2 linked regions of the Homo sapiens genome follow. Changing the gene in region 1 together with any one later gene gives a genetic interaction. Each region holds a gene or a part of one and is shown in the gene's direction. Other genes may lie near its edges.

The links. A genetic interaction does not mean that the proteins touch.
Region 2: changes in PDK2 (region 1) and CKM together harm fitness less than expected from each alone (positive genetic interaction), as found in Homo sapiens cells (one large-scale study listed by BioGRID).

The regions. Positions count from the first base shown.
Region 1 is NC_000017.11:50,101,851-50,105,350, forward strand, and holds part of PDK2 (pyruvate dehydrogenase kinase, isozyme 2 isoform 1 precursor), read left to right. Parts: intron 1-2; exon of another isoform or gene 3-546; intron 547-3,500. UniProt on the Homo sapiens protein: Kinase that plays a key role in the regulation of glucose and fatty acid metabolism and homeostasis via phosphorylation of the pyruvate dehydrogenase subunits PDHA1 and PDHA2.
Region 2 is NC_000019.10:45,312,876-45,316,375, reverse strand, and holds part of CKM (creatine kinase M-type), read left to right. Parts: intron 1-778; coding exon 779-911; intron 912-3,500. UniProt on the Homo sapiens protein: Reversibly catalyzes the transfer of phosphate between ATP and various phosphogens (e.g. creatine phosphate).

The DNA.
Region 1 (3,500 bases):
ACCTTGGGCTGGGCTTGGGAGCTCCGGATCTCACCAAGGGACTCCTGGGGGCCTTGATTACTGCAGAGGTCAGCAGGCCCAGAGACCCCAGCCTCCCTGCAGGTCCTGGGGAGGGGTGGGGGCAATGCCTCTCCCGCCTGTTGGTGCCTGTCTGTCACTGCACCACTGCTTCAGGCCTCCCTTATATAAGCCCAGTTCTCTCTCTGGCCTGCAAGGGGTGGGCAGCCCAGAGGCCAGCGCCACTCGTCCCCAATCTCCCTTCTTAGGATCAAGAACCGGCCCAAGGTTGACATTTGGTGCACCAGGCCCCTGAGGGGCTTCAGGGCAAGGCCAGGGACCTCGGGGAAAATCCTCATCCTCTCCCCTCCATTCCAAGAGTAGCCTGGGCCCCTTGCCCTGGAGGAGCCCTGGCCCTGTGAGGGAGGCTGGCAGGCGCTGCCCGCTGTCACTCCATGCCGGTGCCCTTTGCTCCACTTCAGTGGCCACGTGACCAGGCCCCATTCCTGCCCTCTAGGGTTGTTGAGCAGCCACAAAAGGGGTGGTGCCAGCAGCTGGGGCACTCTCCCTAAGTGAGACTGGGACTTTGACCATGCCCACCCCCACCCACTGCCCAGCACAGTCAGGAAGTGGCTTAGCCTCCCAGCTCCCACCCGCTTCATCCCCACCTGCCTCCTGGGAAGGGGCCTCAGGCCCCACTCTGCAGTGGGTCTCCTCCCCCTCCTCTCCCCACCTGCCCCTAGCACTGCCTGTGTGCGGGCCCTCTCTCCCCTAAGAATCATATGAGCATGAAGGTCTATTTTGGGTGCGTTTAGGGAGCAAGGGATTCGGAGCCACATAGGCCTGGATGAGAGAATCTCAGCTCTGTGTGTTAACTTCCTCATCTGTAAAATGGGTCCAGCAGTAGCGCCCACCTCTGGGGTTCTTGTGGAGGTGAAAGTGGGGCAGGAGGGAAGCACAGGGTGGACCTGGCTATTGGTACCCAGTAAATGCCACCATCACCATCAGCAGCGGCATCACCGTCAGGGCCCGTGTTGGCCGTTGGCCACGTGGTGTAGACTTGGAGTCTGCAAGAGCTAGGTTTGAATCCCAACCTGCTGCTTACTATGTGGCCTGGGGCATATCACTAACCTCTCAGTGCTGGTCTCGTTGTCTGCAAAAACAGGGAAATACCTTGTGCTCATCAAGGCTGTTGGCAGATGAGAGACCCTGTGTGGGACTCGGCACAAGTGGGTGTTAGTGGTCGCTATGTTCTTCTCCAGGGAGACAGGTGAGGTCTTAGGAGTGCCAGCCTGATTGTCTGCTGGGGTGGCAGGGATGGTGATGGGGGCTGAGAGAAAGGCTGATCTTTTCTGCTGTTGGGGCCCCCAGCCCCATCAGCAGCCACAGCTCCTCCTATCGGGCTCTGTGCAGAGCTCTGGGTAGGGAGGGGTGGGCGGTGAGCTCTGGGCCTGAGACAGCCCCCTTCGTGTGGCAGTGGGGCAGGTCTCCAGGGCACAGGGGCTCCAACATGCTGTGATTCAGAGCCTACAAGCAGTGGGAGAGTATCAGATGCTGCCTGGGGGCTCAGAGGATGCATGCAGCTGTTGACAGTGTTTGAGCCACCAGCCATAATAAGAGCAAGCATTAGAGAGTGCTCACTATGTGCTAGGCACTGTGCTAATCATCACATGGAATTCTCACCACAAAGCAGTCATAAATAGATATAACAATCCCCATTTTCCTAATGAGCAAACTCAGGCCCAGAGAGGTTCCATGACTTACCCAGAGCCACACAGCTCCAAGTGCTTAAAGAGCCAGGTCTGGGTCCAGAGCTGGTTCTTTCACTCTCTTCTCTGTCAGGCAAGAGCGAGAAGAGCAGCAATACTAGGTTTAAGGGGAAGGGCATTCCTAGCAGAGGGCACTGTGTGAACAGAAGCGTGGAGGTGAGAGTCGAGCAGAATCAGCACTCTGGAGTGGCAAGAGCGCTGGAGACTCGGGGGCTTCATCATCCCACTTACTAGCTATGGGGCTGCTTACGCCTCCCTGGGGGAGGCTGTGCGTGGGGCTGATTCCTGCCTGTCTGCCTGTTACAGGTTACAGTGAAGGCCAGAGCACTGTGGACATGGGAATGAGTCCTCGTGTGGAGGGGCCTTTTCTAGAAATACTGTTGGGCCCCTGGGGCCCTTGGCACTGCAGGGCTCTAGGTAGCGCCCCCCCTTCCTCCTGGTTATAAGTGTTTCTGCCAGAGAGAGGCTCTTCCTGCCTTCCCCAAAGGAACAAGCCACAGACTGGACATGTTAGCAGGGAAACAGGTCATGGCTCCCCAGGGCACGGGGCACAGTGGCTCCAGCTTGGTACCATCTGCCACCACAGGTGGACCTGACTCCCTTGCAGAAGGAGGCCTGCTGCTGTCCCTGAGTTCAGGGCTTATTTTTTGGGGGGACAGAGTCTTGCTCTGTCACCCAGGCTGGAGTGCAATAGAGCGATCTCGGCTCACTGCAACCATTGCCTCCCAGGTTCAAGCGATTCTCCTACCTCAGCCTCCCGAGTAGCTGGGATTACAGGCGTGCACCACCATGCCCAGCTAATTTTTGCATGTTTAGTAGAGACAGGTTTTTGCCATGTTGGCCAGGCTGGTCTTGAACTCCTGACCTCAGGTGATTCGCCCACCTCAGCCTCCCAGAGTGCTGGGATTACAGGTGTGAGCCACCACACCTGGCTAAGTTCAGGGATTCTTGATGCTCCTTTTAGAGCATCAAGCTCTTCTCTTAGCCCAGGGAAAACTGGCCTCCCCATCAGGCCTGTAGATGGGAGGAGGTGGCAGGGCATCACCCACTGCTACCTGGCCTTTTGCAGTAGAGTGAGCTTCTCTGGACTCTCCATGGGCCCCAGCCCCACCTGGGGACAGAGCCAGGCACGCCCACCCCACCTTTGGGTCCTTCCCACCTGCCATTTTAGAATCCACTTGCCGAGGCAGGTGCCTGGCCCAGATCACCCCAGCTCAGGGGTCACTCTGGGAGGCCCCGTGCTGTCTCCTCTGCCGGGGGTCACTCCAGGAGGCCCTGTGCTGGCCCTTCTGCCATTGTGCCCACTGGATGCAACAACACCCCGGCGGGGAGAAACATTAGGAGCTGTTTCCACACTGGGGCTCAGAGAAGTTGATGCACCTCCCTGCCTTCCCCCACTGCAGGCGCTAGGTCCAGTCTCCCTGCCCCATCTCAGCCTCAGTCTCCTGATCTGTGAGTCCTCTTAGATGGGATCATCTCCAAGCCCCTTCTGAGAGGACTATTCTAGGATTCCAAAGCAAAGGTGCTAAACGGGGGACCAGCAAATTTGAAGTTTTCTTGCATAACTGACTGGGTTGTCAGGGAGACTCACATACAAATGAAATGGATGGAGAAAAATAGTGAGGCGGCTTGTCGGCAGCTCTGTGTGGGGCCCGCGTAGGAGCAGGACAAGAGCAAGGCCCAGTTGAATGAAGTGGGTGAGGAGGGGCTAGCCACCTGAAGCTGAGGCTGTGT
Region 2 (3,500 bases), on another chromosome or scaffold:
CCTGGGCAACATAGTGACACCCTGTCTCTATTTTTTTTTTTTTTTTGAGACAGAATCTCACTCTGTCACCCAGGTTGGAGTGCAGTGGCTCGATCTCAGCTCACGGAAACCCCTGATCCCCAGGTTCAAGTGATTCTCGTGCCTCAGCCTCCTGAGTAGCTGGGATTACAGGCGCGCACCACCACGCCCAGCTAATTTTTGTATTTTTAGTAGAAATGGGGTTTCACCATGTTGGCCAAGCTGGTTTCGAACTCCTGACCTCAGGTGATTGGCTCACCTCGGCTTCCCAAAGTGTTGGGATTACAGGTGTGAGCCACCGCGCCCAGCCCCTGTCTCTATTTATAAAAAATTTATTTTAAGTTAGCCGAACATGGTGGCATATACCTACCTGTTAGTCCCAGCTACTTGGGAGGCTGAGGCAGGGGAATTGCTTGAGCCCAGGAGTTTGAGGTTGCAGTGAGCTATGATGGCACCACTGCACTCCAGCCTGGGCGACAGAGAGAGACCCTGTCTCGAAGAAAAAAAAGGAAAAGAAATATACGAAGATGGGGAGAGAGAGGTATAAAGAAAAACAGAGATAGGAGAGGGGAGAGAGACAGAGAAGGGAGAGACAGAGCCCAGGTATGGGTGGCGGGGAGAGGCTCCACACACCCAATCAGTGAGGATGCAGAAGGCAAAGGAAGCAACAGGGAGACTGAGGGGAGCATCTGGGGGAGACCTGGGCTTGCTGGAGAGGGCGGAGGATCTGCCTGGTCCTGATCTCCCACCCGCTCTCCAGGGTGGAGACGACCTGGACCCTAACTACGTGCTCAGCAGCCGCGTCCGCACTGGCCGCAGCATCAAGGGCTACACGTTGCCCCCACACTGCTCCCGTGGCGAGCGCCGGGCGGTGGAGAAGCTCTCTGTGGAAGGTGAGCGCCCCTACCCCGTCCACTGCTGGGGTCACCCAGCCCTGGCTCTGTTCCTCCATGGGCAGGTCCTCGGGTCTCTTTGGGCCCCCGCTTTTCAAAGTAGGGGAAGAGCTTGGTAAATCGTGGGGGCTTGGGGAATGGCGCGGGCTGTCAGCATTACCTGCTGTGTTGGAGATTCAGGGATGCTGTCCAGACCCGACGGCCCCTGAGAAGACCTACGCAGACACCTGGCTGCCCCCAGCGTCCTGCCATCCGTTCATCCAGCACACATTTCCAGGGGTTCTTGCCCTGTGTGGGGAGATAGGGGTCCCTCACTGTTCTCACAGAGTGTTCAGCTGGTGGGGAGACAAGAGGAAATACAGAAACCCACAGATGAACAAGATAATTCAAAAGTGCCATGAAGCCAAGACATGGGTGTGGTGGAGAATGACCGAGGGGAGCCACCTCAGATAGGAGGAGTTGAGGCCGGGCACAGTGGCTCCCACAGCAGTGCGGGAGGCCTAGGAGGGAGGGTCGCTTGAGCCCAGGAGTTCAAGACCAGACTGGGCAATACAGCAAGACCCTGTCTCTACAAAAAAGACAAAAATGAGCCAGGAGTGGTGGCACACACCTGTCATCCCAGCTACTCAGGAGACTGAGGTGGGAGGATCACTTGAGCCCGGGAGGTTGAGGCTGCAGTGAATCGTGATTGTGCCACTGCACTCCAGCCAGGGTGACAGAGTGAGAACCTGCCTCAAAAACAAATAAAAAGAGGCCAGGCACAGTGGCTCACACCGTAATCCCAGCATTTTGGGAAGCTGAGGCAGGTGGATCATTTGAGGTCAGGAGTTTGAGACCAGCCTGGCCAACATGGTAAAACCCCATCTCTACTAAAAATACAAAAATCAGCTGGGTCTGGTGGCACACACCTGTAATCCCAGCGACTTGGGAGACTGAGGCAGGAGAATCGCTTGAACCTGGGAGGCAGAGGTTGCAGTGAGCTGAGATCACGCCACTGCACTCCAGCCTGGGGGACAGAGTGTGACTCCATCTCAAAAAAAAAAGTTATGTTTATCCTATACTGTAGTCTGTTAAGTGCACAATAGCATTATGTCTAGAAAAAAAAAAGTACATACCTTAATTTTAAAATCCTGCTAAAAATGTTGTGATCATTTGAGGACTCAGCAAGTTGGAACCTTTCTGTTGTGTAGGGCCTTGCCTTGATGTTGATGGGCTGCTGACTGATCAGGGCGGTTGTCGTTCAAGGTTGAGATGGCTGCGGCAATTCCTTCCTTCCTTCCTTCCTTCCTTTCCTTTCTTTTCTTCCTCCCTTCCTTCCCTTCCTTCCCTCCCTCCCTTCCTTCCCTTCCCTTCCCTTTTCTTCTCCGTCCTTCCTTCCTTCCTTCTTTCCTCCCTCCCTTCCTCCCTTCCTTCCTTCCTTCTCTTTCTCTCTCTCTTTTCAAGACAGGGTCTTGTTCTGTTGCCCAGCTGGAATGCAGTGGTGCAATCATGACTTACCATAACCTCCAACTCCTGGGCTTAAGTGATCCTCCCATGTTGGTCTCCCAAAGTGCTGGCATTACAGGTGTGAGCCACAGTGCCTGGCCAGCAGTAATAGTTTGAAAAGAATCTCTTTTTTGAGATGGAGCCACACTCTTGTCGCCCAGGCTGGAGTGCAGTGGTGCAATCTTGGCTTACTGTTACCTCCACCTCGTGGTTCAAGCAATTCTCGTGTCTCAGCCACCCAAGTAGCTGAGATCACCGGCATGCGCCACCACGCCTGGCTAATTTTTGTATTTTTAGTAGAATCGGGGTTTCGCCATCTTGGCCAGGCTGGTCTCAAACTCCTGATCTCAGGTGATCTGCCTGCCTCAGCCTCCCAAACCACTAGGATTACAGGCGTGAGCCACCGCACCTGGCCTATGAAGCTTTTTATTTAAAGTGAAAAATGTTGACTCTTCCTTTCACTTGAACACCTCGAGGCCATTGTAAGGTTATGAACTGAATTGGCCTGATTTCAAAATCATGTGTCTCAGGGAATACGGAGGCTCAAGGAGATGGGGAGAGATGAGGGAATGGCTGGTCAGTGGGGCAGTCCGAGCACACACATTTATCCATTAAGTTCACCCTTTTATATGGGCAAGGTCGGTGGCACCCCCCAAAATTAAAACAGTAACATCAGAGATCACTGATCACGGATCGCCATGACAGATATAGTAATAATGAGAAAGTCTGCAGTACTGTGAGAATTACCCACATGTGACACAGAGACACGAAGTGGCACATGCTGTAGGAAAAATGGCTCCAATAGACCTGCTGGACAAAGAGTTGCCACAAACCTCCAATTTGTAAAAAACACAGTATCTGCAAAATGCAATAAAACGAGGTATGTCTGTATATTATATGAATATGTATAAGATATATAAATATTATAGATTTATTGTACATATGCACAAACACAAATTCATTATACACATATTTTATACATGAATATACAAATAAACACACAATTTTTTTTCTTTTTTTTTTTTTTAGACAGAATCTCACTCTGTCACCCAGGCTGGAGTGCAGTGGCAAAATCTCAGCTCACTGCAACCTCCACCTCTTGGG